3 separate regions of the Homo sapiens genome follow, and regions 1 and 2 are each linked to region 3. Evidence: fine-mapped expression QTL. A gene starts in region 3. Each other region holds a variant in brackets. All regions are shown on one strand. Distances are between the middles of the regions.

Evidence for each region.
Region 1: its variant is fine-mapped to the expression of HOMER3 in whole blood (TOPMed, PIP above 0.99).
Region 2: its variant is fine-mapped to the expression of HOMER3 in whole blood (TOPMed, PIP 0.98).

The regions. Positions count from the first base shown.
Region 1 is chr19:18,969,373-18,974,593 of GRCh38, forward strand. No RefSeq gene overlaps it. Among named protein-coding and RNA genes, the nearest start is that of HOMER3, 31 kb to the left of the region's middle. The variant G/A (reference allele first, on the strand shown) is at 3,064.
Region 2 is chr19:18,980,628-18,985,848 of GRCh38, forward strand. No RefSeq gene overlaps it. Among named protein-coding and RNA genes, the nearest start is that of HOMER3, 42 kb to the left of the region's middle. The variant A/C (reference allele first, on the strand shown) is at 2,790.
Region 3 is chr19:18,939,161-18,944,381 of GRCh38, forward strand. HOMER3 (homer scaffold protein 3) reads right to left here and starts at 2,057. Exons shown (of 10, transcript NM_004838.4): 1 at 1,891-2,057. It overlaps HOMER3-AS1 (HOMER3 antisense RNA 1), which reads left to right and starts at 1,094. Exons shown (of 3, transcript NR_134913.1): 1 at 1,094-1,464. RefSeq lists a silencer at 2,021-2,220.

The DNA.
Region 1 (5,221 bases), 30 kb after region 3:
GCAACCTCCACCTCCCAGGTTCAAGTGATTCTCCTGCCTCAGCCTCTGGAGTAGCTGGGATTACAGGCACGCACCACCACACCCAGCTAATTTTTGTATTTTTAGTACAGATGCAGTCTCGCCATACTGGTCAGGCTGGTCTTGAACTCATGACCTCAGGTGATCCACCTGCCTGGGCCTCCCAAAGTGCTGGGATTACAGGCGTGAGCCACCGCACCCGGCCTGAGGTTTCATTTTCTGTGGTGTTGGCTACCTTCCATCAACCTCAATCCAAACATATTAAGTGGAAAATTCCAGAAATAATTCGTAAGTTTTCAGTTGCCTGCCGTTATGAGTAGTGTGATGAAATCAGTCCCCACCCCGCCCCCTCCCACCCTGGATATGAATCATCCCTTTGTTAAGGGTGCCCACGCCATAGACACTACCAGCCGGCTAGTCACTTAGTAATCTTCTGGGTGATCAGATCAACCGTGTCAGTATTACAGTGCTTATGTTCCAGAAATCCAAATTTTATTAATTTTCTATTTTATTATGTTATTGTTGTTAATCTTTTACTGTGTCTCACTGATAAATTAAACTTTATCATAGGTATGTATGTATGCATAGGAAAAAAACAGTGCATACACGTTTGGTATTTTCTGAAGTTTCAGGAATTTACTGGCAATCTTGGAACATATTCCCCACAGGCAAGGGGGAACTATTGTATTATTTTGGTATTCAAAATAAAAGAGGCTGGGCATGGTGGCTCATGCCTGTAATCCCAGCACTTCGGGAGGCCAAGGCAGGAGCAATCGATCCCTTGAGCCCAGGAGTTCGAGACCAGCCTGGGTAACATAGTGACAGCCCGCCTTTACAAAAACTTTGAAAAGTAGCCGGGTGTGGTAGCTCGTGCCTGTAGTATCAGCTACTCTGGAGGCTGAGGTAGAATTGTCTTGGGCCCAGGAGGCTGCAGTGAGTTATGATCACGCCACTGCACTCCAGCCTGGGGGACAGCATGAGAGCCTGTCTCAAAAAATTAAAACAAAATAGCACACAGAAAAAAGTTTTTGAAATTAGCCTCAATAACTTGACAGTTTCATCCATGTCAGGGATCAAGCCTGAACTCTGGATGAATCACATATCTATTTTTTTTTCTTTTTTTGGGGGAGACAGAGTGAGACTGTCTCCCAGGCTGGAGTGCAGTGGCACGATCTCGGCTTGCTGCAACTTGTCTCTTGGCTTCACGCAATTCTCATGCCTCAGCCTCCCAAGTAGCTGGGATTACAGGCATGCGCCACCACGCCTGGCTAATTTTTGTATTTTTAGTAGAAACGGGGTTTCACCATGTCAGCCAAGGCTGGTCTTGAGCTCCTGACCTCAGATGATCTGCCTGCCTTAGCCTCCCAAAGTGCTGGGATTACAGGCGTGAGCCACCGCCCCGGCCTTGAACTTTAATTTGTCTCCTGTTCTGACCTGCCTCAGGTGGAGCTCTGCTGGGTGGGTGGGGCTGATAGCCTTTCCCGTCCTACATGAGTTGTAGATATGTGTGTGTGTGTGTATATATATGTGTGTGTTTATGTGAGTGTGTATGTGTGTGAGAGAGATGAATTCTTTTTTTCTTTTTACTTTTTTCTGTTTTTTTTTTCTAGGCGGAGTTTTGCTCTGTTGCCCAGTCTCAAGTGCAATGGAGCGATCTTGGATCATTGCAACCTCTGCCTCCCGGATTCAAGTGATTCTCCCACCTCAGCCTCCTGAGTAGCTGGGATTACAGGTGCCTGCCACCATGCCTGGTTAATTTTTGTATTTTTAGTAGAGATGGGGTTTCACCATATTGGCCAGGCTGGTCTCGAACTGCTGACCTCAGGTGACCCGCCCTCCTCGGCTTCCCAAAGTGCTGGGATTACAGGTGTGAGCCACTGTGCCTGGCCAAGAGATGTATGTTGTATTTTTTTTTAAGCAGAGGAAAGAAGTATAAACATTAAATTTAAAAACAAAACTTTTGGCCAAGCATGGTGGCTCAGTCCTGTAATCCCAGCACTTTGGGAGGCTGAGGCAGGTGGGTTACCTGAAGTCAGGAGTTCAAGACCAGCCTGCCAACGTGGAGAAACCCTGTCTTTACTAAAAATACAAAAATTAGCTGGGCATGATGGCGCATGCCTGTAATTCTAGGCACATGGGAAGCTGAGGCGGGAGAATCACTTGAACCCGGGAAGTGGAGGTTGCAGCGAGCCAAGGTTGCGCCACTGCACTCCAGCCTGGGTGACAAAAGGAGACTCTTGTCTCCAAAAAAAAAATTTTTTTTAAATTGTTTATTTTTTAGAGACAGGGGTCTTACTATGTTGTCCATGCTGTTAAACTCTCGGGCTCAAGCGATACTCTCCCCTTAGCCTCCCGAGTACCTGAGATTACGGGGCGTTTGCCACCACACCGGGCTAATTTTTTATACTTTTAATAGAGACAGGATTTCACCATGTTGGCCAGAGTGGTCTTGAACTCCTGACCTCAAGTGATCCACCTGCCTCGGCCTCCTAAAGTGCTGGAATTACAGGTGTGAGCCACCATGCCTGGCCGTTTATTATTATTTATTATTATTTTTTTGAGACGTAGTTTCACTCTTGTCACCCAGGCTGGAGTGCAATGGCGCGATCTTGGCTCACTACAACCTTTGCCTCACAAGTTCAAGCAATTCTCCTTCCTCAGCCTCCCATGTACCTAGGATTACAGGCACACGCCACCACGCCTGGCTAATTTTTTTTCACGCCATGTTGACGGGGTTTCACCATGTTGGCCAGGCTGGTTTCAAACTCCTGACCTCGAGTGATCTGCCTGTGTTGGCCTCCCAAAGTGCTGGGATTACAGGCGTGAGCCACGGTGCCCGGCCGAGAGGTATAATTTCTGTTTATTTTTTCTCTCTGCTTATCTTGTTGGCTGTTTCTTCTCCAATACAGTCACATTTCTTGGATAAGAACAAAAATATAATAAGACCGTTTTGAAAATGCAGGCAAAGAAATGCTGGAAAGCGGTCATGAACATGCCAACGGAGATTATCTCTGCGAGCTGAGCGATTAAGGGAGGGGTTGCAGG[G/A]TTTTTATTTGTTTTCTTTTCTGCTTCTTTGTTTCTCCATCAGGAAATTGACCAACATTTTTTTAATTAGGGGAAATGACAGTTACCCCGTGTGCACTTTTTGGCAGGACCTGGCCTTCAGCGTGGGTCTTGGGGCCCCCTGGCCAGTCTGAGCTCCTGTGGGGCAGTTTTTCTGGTCATCTGCAGAGGCCCCGGGTGCAGGCAGGGGAGCCCCAGCTCCTACGCGCTGCATTTCCTCAGAGGCTCCAGCACCACGAATTTTTTTTTTTTTTTTTTTTTTTAGACAGGAAATTTCTCTGTCACCCAGGCTGGAGTGCAATGACACAATCATAGCTCACTACAGCCTCGACTCCCAGGGCTCAAGTGATCCTCAGCTACCTCAGCCTCCTGAGTAGCTGGGGCCACAAGCATGTACCAACACCCATGGCTAAATTTTGTATTTTGTGTAGAGACAGGGGTCTCACCATGTTGCCCAGGCTGGTCTTGGACTCCTGGGCTCAAGTGATCCGCCCACTTTGGCCTCCCAAATTGCTGGGGTTACAGGTGTTAGCCACCACACCCAACCGAGGGCTTCATTCTCTCTGACGCTCTGTGAATAGAGTTTAGACTGTCCTCCCACCAGCACTGGGGTGAGGTAATGCAGGAAAGGGCTGGTCCCACTGGCCCAGAAGCAGATAAGAGCACCCTCCATCTACAGCCAAAAGTTAAAATCCAAAATCCAGAACCTTCCTGAGCCACCCTTTCTGTCTTTGGTGCTGGCACGGCACTGGCATGCAGTGGGTGCCATATTATTGCTCTCCAGCGGCATGGCAGGTCTTACCACTGTGGCATCAGGACCCCGGGTTTCTCTAGCTCGGGTGATGTGGATCACTTGAGAGGCCGAGGATCGCTTGAGCCCAGAAGGCTGAGCCTGCAGTGAGCCCTGATGGCACCATTACACTCTAGCCTGGGCAACAAATTGAGAATCTGTCGCAAAATAAAAGAAAAAAAGAGAGAGAGAGAGAGAGAGTTTCTCTTATTTGCAGTCTTGAGTAAGGCGTCCTGCAGGAATTTTTGTTTGTTTGTTTCTGTTTTGAGATGGAGTTTCGCTCTTGTTGCCCAGGCTGGAGTGCAATGGCGTGATCTCGGCTCACCGCAACCTCTGCCTCCCAGGTTCAAGTGATTCTCCTGCCTCAGCCTCCCTAGTAGCTGGGATTACAGGCATGTGCTACCATGCTCGGCTAATTTTGTATTTTTAGTAGAGATGGGGTTTCTCTGTGTTGGTCAGGTTGGTCTCGAACTCCTGACCTCAGGTGATCCGCCCGCCTCAGCCTCCCAAAGTGCTGGGATTACAGGCATGAGCCACCACACCCGGCCATTTATTTTATTTTATTTTATTTTATTTTTTTGAGATGGAGTTTCACTCCTGCTGCCCAGGCTGGAGTGCAATGGCGTGATCTCGGCTCACTACAACCTCTGCCTCCCGGGTTCAAGCGATTCTCCTGCCTCAGCCTCCTCACTAGCTGGGATTACAGGCGCCTGCCACCATGCCAGGCTAATTTTTTTTTTTTTTTTGAGATGGAGTCTTGCTCTGTTGCCCAGGCTGTAGTGCAGTGGCACGATCTCAGCTCACTGCAAGCTCCACCTCCCAGGTTCAGGCCATTCTCCTGCCTCAGCCTCCCAAGTAGCTGGGACTACAGGCGCCCACCAGCGCCTGTATTTTTAGTAGAGACGGGGTTTCACCGTGTTAGCCAGGATTGTCTCGATCTCCTGACCTCGTGATCTGCCTGCCTTGGCCTCCCAAAGTGCTGGGATTACAGGTGTGAGCCACCATGTCCGGCCTAATTTTTGTATTTTTAGTAGAGATGGGGTTTTACCATGTTGGCCAGGCTGGTTTTGAACTCCTGACCTCAGGTGATCCACTTGTCTTGGCCTCCCAGCCTGCTGGGATTACAGGCGTGAGCCACTGCGCCCAGCCAATTTTTGTATTTTTAGTAGAGATGGGGGTTTCACCATGTTGGCCAGGTTGGTCTCAAACTCCTGACCACAAGTGATCCGCCCACTTCAGCCTTCTAAAGTGCTTGGATTATAGGTGTGAGCCACCACACCTGACCTGGAGAATATATCTTTTTCTTTTTTTTTTTTTTTTAGATAGAGTCTTGCTCTGTCACCCAGGCTG
Region 2 (5,221 bases), 41 kb after region 3:
GTGGGTGTTGGGTTTTGGGGGATGAATATGAGTTTGCCAAGTTGAAGGTGGGGGCTGACCATGAACTGAACTTTATGGAATCTAACCAACACAACAAAATAAATCTAATTTTCAAAATGAAAATGAAAATGAGCATATTCTCCTTTGTTGGCGTGAACTGCAGGAATGTTTATATGTGGACACTTCACAGGCCAGCCTGCACCAGGCCTGGCTCATGCCGGCCAGTTCCTTCCTGAAGCTATTCATGTCTGCTGCAAAGATGGGATTAAAAACAGCATGTTGGCCTCTTCATTCATTAGGAGAGTGGAGAAATGGGAAAATTTGGGCTGCCCAAACTCCTCATGATCTATGAGGATAAACAGAAAGTTCAACGCCAGCCCTGACTGAGGACCCCCCACAAGGACTTATCTTCTATGTTTTTCTTTTCTTTTTTTGAGATGGAGTCTAGGTCTGTTGCTCAGACTGGAGTGCAGTGGCATGATCTCAGCTCACTGCAACCTCCACCTCCTGGGTTCAAGTGATTCTCCTGCCTCAGCCTCCTGAGTAGCTGGGATTACAGGCTTGTGCCACCACTCCTGGATAATTTTTGTATTTTAGAGATAGGGTTTCGCCACGTTGGCCAGGCTGGTCTCGAACTCCTGACCTCAAGCAATCCGCCCGCCTCGGCCTCTCAAAGTGCTAGGATTACGGGCGTGACCCACCACGCCCAGCCTCCTTGCTCTCTGAATCTGGATCTCACTTTCTGTAAATCCAATGTGACCTTTGGCTGTTTACTGAGTACAAGACGCTCCTGATGACCCATTTTACAGATGAGGAAATTGGGGCTCAGAGAAGGCGAGAGAGCAGAGACTGGGATTCAGTGAGGAGGGTCCCAGGGGGCCTGATGATGATGATGATTATTATTATTATGGAGACTTGCTCTTTTTGCCCAGGCTAGAGCGCAGGGGCGTGATGTCGGCTCACTGCAACCTCTGCCTCCAGGGTTCAAGTGATTCTCCTGCTTCAGCCTCCTGAGTAGCTGGGATTACAGGTGTGTGCCAGCATGCCCAGTTAATTTTTGGGTAAAGACAGTGTTTCACCATGTTGGCCAGGCTGGTCTTAAACTCCTGACCTCAAATGATCCACCTGCCTCGGCCTCCCAAAGTGCTGGGATTACAGGCATGAGCCACCCGCACCCAGCCAGGCCTGAATTTTTTTAAAGACAGGGTCTTCCTATGTTGTCCAGGCTGAAGTGCAGTGGCACAATCATGGCTCGCTGCAGCTTTGAGCTCCTGGGCTTTAGTGATCCTCTCACCTCAGCTTCTCAAGTAGCTGGAACTACAAGGAATGGGCTACCACACCTGGCTAGATTTTTAAATTTTTTATAGAGACTGGGTCTCCCTATGTTGCCCAGGCTGTTCTCCAACTCCTGGGCTGAAGTGATCCTCCCACTTTGGCCTCCCAAAATGCTGGGATTACAGGTGTGAGCCACTGCACCTGATTGATGGTGAGTTTGAAGTGGAAGGTGTTTGAAGGGGTGAAAGTGTCCATCAGAAAGCAGCTGGCCAGGCGTGGTGGCTCATGCCTGTAATCTCAATCCCAGCACTTTGAGAGGCTGAGGTGGGCGGATCACCTGAGGTCGGGAGTTCAAGACCAGACTGATCAACATGGAGAAACCCCATCTCTACTAAAAACACAAAATTAGCTGGGCATGGTGGCGCATGTCTGTAATCCCAGCTACTCAGGAGGCTGAGGCAGGAGAATCGCTTGAACCCGGGATGCGGAGGTTGTGGTGAGCCGAGATCACGCCATGGCACTCCAGCCTGGGCAACAAGAGCAAAACTCTGTCTCAAAAGAAAAGAAAGCAGCTGAGACCAATATAGCTAAGGAGTGAAGAGCTGGGTTCCGATTCTGATTCTGCCCACTTGCAGGGGCTCTTCCTAGTCCTTCTGTGAACAGCATCTTGTTGTGCTTGGGGTCTTTCCCCCTTCTTAGCCAATGAAGCCCTAGCTATCAGTGTATTGTAGCCCTCTGGCCACTGTGATTGGTTCAGAGACAGGCATATGCCCCGGGCTGGGGCAATAATAGACAATCTTGGTGTCTGTGCCACCCCTATCAGACAACAGAGCTCTTGTGATGTTGCTTAAATGGGTAAGGCTAGGCTCCGAGTTGCTGGCCACCATCTTGCCTGCCTGTAAACAAAGGACAGCAAAGCCAAGAAATAGAGAGAGAGGCTGGTGGTTTTGGTTGAGTGCCTTGATCCAGCTGATCCTGAAGGTGTCCTTTCCAATTCCATCCACCAATTAATTCCCTTTTTGGCTTTATGCAGCCCAAAGAGTTCCCATGTATTCAGCCCTTAGTGCTGCAGAGACAGCACTATAAACATGTCAGTTACTTCATTCATTAGGAGAGCAGAGAAATTGGAAAATTGAGGCTGCCCTCATTGCTGTCTATGAGGATAAACAGAAAGTCAAAGACCAGGCAGGCTGTAGTGGCTCCTGCCTGTAATCTTAGCACTTTAGGAGGCTGAAATAAGCGGATCACTCAAGCCCAACAGTTTGTGACCAGCCTGGGCAACATAGTGGACCCTGTCTCTACAAAAAGAAAAAAAAAAAAAAAATTAGCCAGGCATGGTGGTGCATGCCTGTAGTCCCAGCTACTTGGGAGGCTGAAATGGGAGGATCACCTGAGCTCAGGGAGGTTGAGGCTGCAGTGCCACCGCACTCCAGCCTGGGTGACAGAATGAGACTCTGTCTCAAAAAAAAAAAAACAAAAAAAAAAAACAGCTAAAGACCAGCCCTAAGAACTGA[A/C]CTTTCTGGAAATGGCTTGGACGTCCCACCTGCCTGCCCCAGAGAGTTGTTAACCAACGTCTCTGGGCCTCAGTTTCCTCGTCTGTAAAGGGAGCTGTGGTTGCCTAAGGTGAAAGGAGCACAGGTGCCAAGCGTTCTTTGCCATGCCTGGCGCTATAAGATATCCAGTGCTATCTAGGGATGCCCCCCGGGTGCCCACCCTGGACTCCTGCTTACTTGGACTTGGATAAAAGAAGGTTTTCTGGCCAGGTGCAGTGGTTCATGCCTGTAATCCCAACACTTTGGGAGGCAGAGGCGGATGGATCATCTGAGGTCAGGAGTTCAAGACCAGCCTGAGCAACATGGTGAAACCCCATCTCTACTAAAAATACAAAAATTAGCCAGGTATGGTGGTGCCTGCCTGTAGTCCTAGCTACTTGGGAGGCTGAGGCAAAATAATTGCTTGAAACTGGGAGGTGGGGGTTACAGGGGGTTGCAGTGAGCCCAGATTGAGCTGCTGTACTCCACCAGCCTGGGCAACAGAGTGAGACTCTGTCTCAAAAAAAAAAAAAAAAAAAAAAAAAAAAAAAAAAGAAGAAGAAGAAGAAGAAGGTTTTCTGCGTTCTGAGGGACTTAGTTGCTCCCAGACATCTCTGCCTCTTGCAACAACCTGCCAAGAACGTGGAGAGCCAGAAAGGAGAGGGTGAACATCTCTGGACTGAAACAGGGAAACTGTCAAAGGCTCTAGAGTAGGCAGGTGGGACGTCCAAGCCAGAAAGGACAGGTTTGCTCTGGGTTCCTTGCAAGTGACCTCCATGGGGTTCGGGGCTGAGACGGAGCCTACAACGTTGTCTAAGGCCACATTTCAGACAACTGCCAGAGAATGGTTGTTTTACCAAATAGCTGGCCAGCACACGGGGTCTATGTCTCTGTGTCTTTTGGCTAGGTTATTCACACCCCACCCTCGTCAGCTGTCAGGGTTACCCTGGGGAATGTCAATTCCAGGCACTTCTGGTTCCAGTGGGCATTCAGGCAAAGGGTGCTCCAGCAGCCCAGGGTAGCCCTGATACCCTGCACAGGTGCCTGCCATTAAATGGGGCTGGAACCGAGGGGTATAGATGGAACAGTTCAGAATTGCTTTCATTCCTGCCCTGCCCTTCCAGACTGCTCTTTTAAAAGGTGTAAATCAGGCCAGGCATGGTGATACATGCCTGTAGTCCCAGCTACTCAGGAGGCTAAGGCTGGAGGATCATTTCAGCCCAGGAGGTCAAGGCTGCAGAGAGCTATGATCATGCCACTGTACTCCAGCCTGGGCTACAGAGTGAGATGCCGTCTTAAAAATAATAATGATAATGATGATAAATTTTTTGTTTGTTTTTGAGACAGAGTCTTACTCTGTCACTCAGGCTGGAGTGCAGTGACGCCATCCCGGCTCGCTGCAACCTCCACTTTCCGGGTTCAAGTGATCTTCTCGCCTCAGCCTCCCGAGTAGCTGGAACTATGTGTGTGTACCACCATGCCTGGCTAATTTTTGTATTTTTAGTACAAACGGAATTTTGCCGTCTTGCCCAGGCTGGTCTCAAACTCCTGACCTCAAGCGATCCGTCTGCCTTGGCCTCCCAAAGTGCTGGGATTACAAGCATGAGCCACCGCACCATGACAAAAGCCCCTCTCTACTAAAAAATACAAAAATTAGCTGGGCATGGTGGCGCGTGCCCATAGTCCCGGCTACTCAGGAGGCTGAGGTGGGAGGATTGCGTGAATCTTGGAGGTGGAGGTTGCAGTAAGCCGAGATGGCACCACTACACTCCAGCCTGGGCGACAGAGTAAGACCCTGTCTCAAAACGAAAACCAACAAATAAAAATGTGTGGTGAATGAATGAATGAATGAATGAGTGAACAGACAAGATGTAAAAAGCCGATCAGAGCCTCTGCCAAGGAGATGTCAGAGGGTTTTTCACAGCAGCCTTTGAACAATGGCCCTGGGAGGAAGCCAGGCTTATTTCCCCATTTGACACAGGAAGAAACTGTCTTGGTTCAAATCTGATCCTTTTTTCTCCTAAGACCACAGCTGCCTCCGAAACAAAGGCCGACAATTGCTGCCAGCAAGTGCTTTGCTGTTTTTACTTCCTCTAAACATTCTTCAGTGGATTTTCCTTTCAAACTGGTTGTAAGGAGGCACATGGCTGGGTGTTGGTGGGGGGTGGCACCCCTGCCCGGACCCCACACGCTTCCCTACCACGTGGCCGGTTTGGAGTAGACCCATCTTTGTGCTGAAACACAGCCCAACATTGCCATATACGGGGGGCTTGTCTACATTTTACAAGATTTTTACAAAAATGATGCTACACTTTGCAAATGGATTTATTTTTTTTGAGACAAGGTCATACTCTGTCACCCAGGCTGGAGTGCAGTGGTACAATCACAGCTCACTGCAGCCTTGACCTCCCGGG
Region 3 (5,221 bases):
AAAAGGCAGGAGAGGCCCAAAGTACACCTGGTGCTTTGGGAGGCTGAGTCAGGAGGATCCTTTGAGCCCAGGAGTTCGAGACCATCCTGAGCAACATGGCGAGACCCCATCTCTACCAAAAATTTAAACAATTAGCTGGGTGTGGTGGCATGTGCCTGCCGTCCCAGCTACTGGGGAGGCTGAGGTGGGAGGATCACTTGAGCCCAGGAGGTCAAGGCTGCAGTGCAGTGAGCTATGGTCAGGCCACTGCACTCCAGCCTGGACAAGAGAGTGAGACCCTGTCTCAAAAAAGAAAGAAATTATAAAAAGAAACAAAAAGGTAAGATAATTATTATAGATAACTCAGAGCAAGCAGACCCCATCTTTCTTTGTCTAGGGGAAGCCCCCACAACACCCTGTACAGGAGATGGCCCTCTGAGAGGAGCCTGGTGGCCGCTGACATCCAGATGTAAATTTCTCATTGTCCTGGTTATTGCACCCCCGTGAAGTCCCCTCCATCCCAGGCTGAGCTGTGGAGGCCAAATCTCTGCTGAGTTCTTTCCACCACATTCACCCATGACTGGCCAGAGCGGGGCTCTCCACCAAAAAATGGGGCGTTGAGAGGTGTGTAGTACCAGGAGACCAGTTCCCCACTACACCCTGCAGAGGGACCCCACCCCCAGCAGCTCCCACCCTAGGGCAGAAGCACACCTTGAAGTCCAGAGTCCAAATCCCCAGGGAGCCCCCAGCCAAGTTAAAAAGACAAGATGTAGACAAACAGCCAATCCCAATGCCCACCATGAGGGCAGAGCAGAATCCACACTGGGAGACCAGGGCTCCCCAACCTCCCCATTGGGCCATTCAGCAACCCCGAATCTGCAGGGGACCAAGGAGGAGTTTGGAGGAGGGGGAAGACAGGTGGGGGAGGGGAGGCCCTGGCCCAGCGGCCTCTGTGGTCAAAGGGGGGATGCCCCCCCTATCCTGTCCTGGGCAGCTGCTGTCCTGGTCACAGGGTCTGAAACCGGAGCCCCTGAGTGGGGGTGGGGCGGCAGCTCTGGCCTGGACTGGGGGCGGGTCCTGCGCCGGGTGGGAGTTGGGGAACACAGGGGTCCCCGGAACCCAGGCCCTTCCGGTCCGGCAGCTCCTGCTGCGACTTGCAGCGTTTGGGGAAAGTTACTCACCAACTAGTCATGCGCCTCGGATGCCGCCGGCCACGGGGCTCCCGGAGGGGGGTCCGACACCGCCCGGTGCCCGGGATCCCCAATCTGGCCGGTGGATGAGGCCCCATCCCATGCACCCGAGTGCGGGGGACGGGGGGGTTAATATTAATTCAGGATCCCATCCCCACCCGAGGCAGGACACCCAGTGCACGCCCCAACTCCGGGACGCGGGCTCTGACCCTGGAACTTCCGAGATTCCCGCGACGCCCCCTGTCTCTGGGTCCAGAACTTCGGGGGACACCTCTTCTGCCTCCTCCAACCCCAGGTCGGTAACTCCGGGGACTCCCTTCGTGACTCCTCCTCTAACTGGGTCCGGGACCCCGGTCCTCCGCGTTGTCCTAGACTCCTAAACTTCGAGGACCCCCTGCCACCCCTCCAGTCCCTGGGTCCGGGACGTCCGGACCCCTCCCACCCCAGTACCCCACCCCAGGTCCGCAGCTTTGGGGACCTCTTCGCAGCCTCCTCCAACGCCGGGTCCAGAACTTTGGGAACCTCCCACGCAGTCCCCTCTCAGACCCTGAATCCAGAACTTCGGGACCCCCGCGCTCCCTCCAGCCCTGGAACTTGGGGACCCCTCGCGCCGCTCCCAGTCCCGGGTCCGAAACTTCTGGGGAACCCCCACGCCCTCCCCTTGGCCCTGGGACTTCGAGGCCCCCGCGCTCCCAGCGCAGGCTCGGCAGGCCGGGCTCACCCTGCCAGGTCGGCGCCCCGCGAGTGTCCAGGCGCGAGTCGGGTGCGGCCCCCGCGGCGCTGACTCCGCGCTGCCGGGCGCCCCGCTCGCTCCCTGGCTCCCGGGCCCGCGCCCTCCGCGCCGCCCTCCACGCCGCCCGTGCCTTTGTCTGCGCCGCCGCCGCCCGCGCCGCCTCCGGTCCCATCGCGGCCGGTCCCGACGCGGCCGCCGCCCGCCCCGCCTCCCCGGGCCGCCAAGGCCGCCCCGCTGCGCCCCCTGCCGGCTTTTTGCACTGGGAGAGGGTATGGGGGAGGGGATAAGGGGGAGGGGCGGGGGCCGGGACTGGGGAAGGGACGGAGGATTGAGGGAGGGGGTTAGGGGCGGTGGAGGGGGAGTGGGGGGGGGGGTTGCGTGGGGTCGGGTTGGGAGCAGAGGGTGGGGACAGAGAGACAGACGGAGAGGGACATCTGGGATGAGAAAGAGACCCAGAAACAGAGACACGGGGGAGACAGGCGGAGAGATAGGAAGCAGATGGAGAGAGTTGCACGGACAGCGATGTGACCTCACCCTCCTGTCACCTTCTCAGGAGACAGCTGCCTCTGTCCCCACTACCTGAGGTCATAACTTTGGGCCTGTGAGGGAGGTCAGGTCCCTCCCGGGCTGACATGGGTGGCCCAGTGAGGTTGGGGAGGGGGCAGTGGGTCTCAGGGTCTGCATACAGTAAGTGCTCAATGGGTGTTGCCAGGAAACGGAAGAGATCAACTTCGGGAGGGAACGGGAAGCAAGACAAAGAGAGAGAAGCCTCTGTTCCCCTGCCCGTCCCATCCCTAAGCAGGGACGTCTGTCCACCTCTGTCCCTCCCAAGACGATGGTAAAAATGCCCACAATGGTTGGATTAAGGTTATCTTTGCTGTTGTTTGAGGGTTCCAAAATCCAAAGGCTGAGGAAATGTCTCCAACGCATGGTTGCATCCCCTCAGCCTCCACTGGCCTGCGTTTGTCACCTCTGGTCACAGGGAGCACCCCCTTCCCACACTTGCCAGGAGAGCATCCTTCCGGAGTTGAACTAGGATCCACCTCCCCAGCCCCAAGCCCATGTGTCCCACTTGTCAATCCTGGTGCCGCCCCCTCTCTGGCACCGTCTCCAAAATCACACGGTGCGGCGCCGTTGGTTCGTTTGTGGACAGAGGTCCTGCAGCTCCCTGGAACCAAGGCCTGTGGCGCCCTAAAGCTCTGATCTTACATTTGAGTTTTTCTTTTCTTTTCTTTTCTTTTTTTTGAGACAAAGTCTCACTCTGTTGCCCAGGCTGGAGTGCAGTGGCACAATCTCGGCTTACTGCAGCCTCTGCCTCCCAGATTCAAGCAATTCTCCTGCCTCAGCCTCCCGAGTAGTTGGGACTACAGGTGCATGCCACCACACCTGGCTGATTTTTGTATTTTTAGTAGAGATGGGGTTTCACCATGTTGGCCAGTCTGGTCTCGAACTCCTGACCTCAAGTGATCTGCCCCCCTCGGCTTCCCAAAGTCCTGGGATTACAGACGTGAGCCACCACACCTGGCCGACACTTGAGTGTTTTGACAACTTCAGAGAGGCTTTTGCTTTTCATCTCCAAGACCTCTGCTCCTGTCTCCTTTCCCTGTTCCTTTATTTCTGTTTCCTTCTAAGAAGAATAGTATATCTGAGCTGGCGGTTACATTACATTCAAATTACCTTTAGGTGAATTCCAGGTCAGGTTGTTTTTGGAGATTGACTCCTGCGCCAAGATCTGAGTCTTCCCCCATCCAGGCCTTTGCCCAAACTGTTCCTTCCACCTGGAATGCCCTCGCTGCAGGCATCTCTTCTGCCTTGTCCTTCCAGGCTCAGCGCCACCACCCTGTCTCCTCCTCCAGGAAGCCTCTCTGACTACCCTGGCCTTGGAAGGGATCTTGCCCTCCCCTGTCCCAATCCCTGTGACTCTTTTTTTTTTCTTTTTTAAAGTTTATTTTTAGAGACGAGGTCTCACTATGTTGCCCAGGCTGGTCTCAAACTCCTAAGCTCAAGTGATCCTCCCACCTCGGCCTCCCAAAGTGCTGGGATGACAGGTGTGAGCCCAGACCCTTTCTGTGACTCTTATGTTACCTGTTTATTACATGACCAGGTCTGGGTGCTCCTCTAGGGCTGGCCCATCCATCCTGAAGCCCCAGTCTGACCCAGCACAAGAGCGACTGTTCATCCCACAGGGGAAACTGAGGCACAGACTCGGTTTCCCTGGCTGCTTCTAACTTCACGAGGCATCTGCACAAGGGAAGGATTTGGCTCTGTTCTCAGGCCGGAAGCCACGAAATGCTTGAACATTGTGGGGAGCAAAGAAAATACCGTCTGTTCTGTGCAAAAAATGACTTTTCCTTATTACCAACAAAATAATGGAAAAAATAAAAAAGTATCTGGGAAAGGTGCTGGCATGGCCAAGGCTTCTGGAAGCTGCTTAGAGTTTGCCAAGTGCACAAGTGGGGCCCTGTGGCTATTTTACAGGGGCGGCTGGGCGAGGGGCCCAGGCAGACTTTGCCCTTTGTGTGGGCAGAAAGCAACAGTGAAAGAGACAGTGAAGGGTTGAGTTGCTTTCCTGAACACCCTCTCCGGTCTCTGGGAGGGGCTGGGACAGGGCTGGCCTTGAGCAGCCCCAACCTGAAGCTGGACTAGCCAAGTCTACACTGAGGCACTGGCTTCCTCAGTGTGGGCCTCAGTTTTCTCACCTGGAAAATGGGCCGATGCTTGCAGGGCTTCTAGTAGAGGGAGAAACATGAAGGATTTAGTCAATATCAGCAGCTGTCCTCTGGGGTGCCTGCCATTAGGTTCGTGGGCAAAGGCCCTGCCACTCTTTGCTGCAGCTGGGAAAACAGAGTCTGTGTCTCAGTTTCCCTGCTGGGATGAATAGTCACTCTTATGCTGGGTCAGACTGAGGCTTCAGGATGGATGGGCCAGCCCTAGAGGAGCACCTAGACCTGGTCATATAATAAACAGGTAACATAAGAGTCACAGAAAGGGGCTGGGCTCATGCCTGTCATCCCAGCACTTTGAGAGGCCGAGGCTGGAGGATCGCTTGAGCTCAGGAGTTCGAGACCAGCCTGGGCAACATAGTGAGACCTCGTCTCTAACGAGGGCTGCCCTGAGCTGCTGCCCCCACCCCAGTCTGGGCCCTCTTCTTCCTAGGTCTGGAGGCCTCTCTTCTAAAGAACTGGGCTGGGTGCAGTGGCTCATGCCTGTAATCCTAGCACTTTGAGAGGCTGAGGCAGGCAGATCACCTGAGGTCAGGAGTTTGGGACCAGCCTGGTCAAAACATGGTGAAACCCCGTCTCTACTGAAAATACAAAAA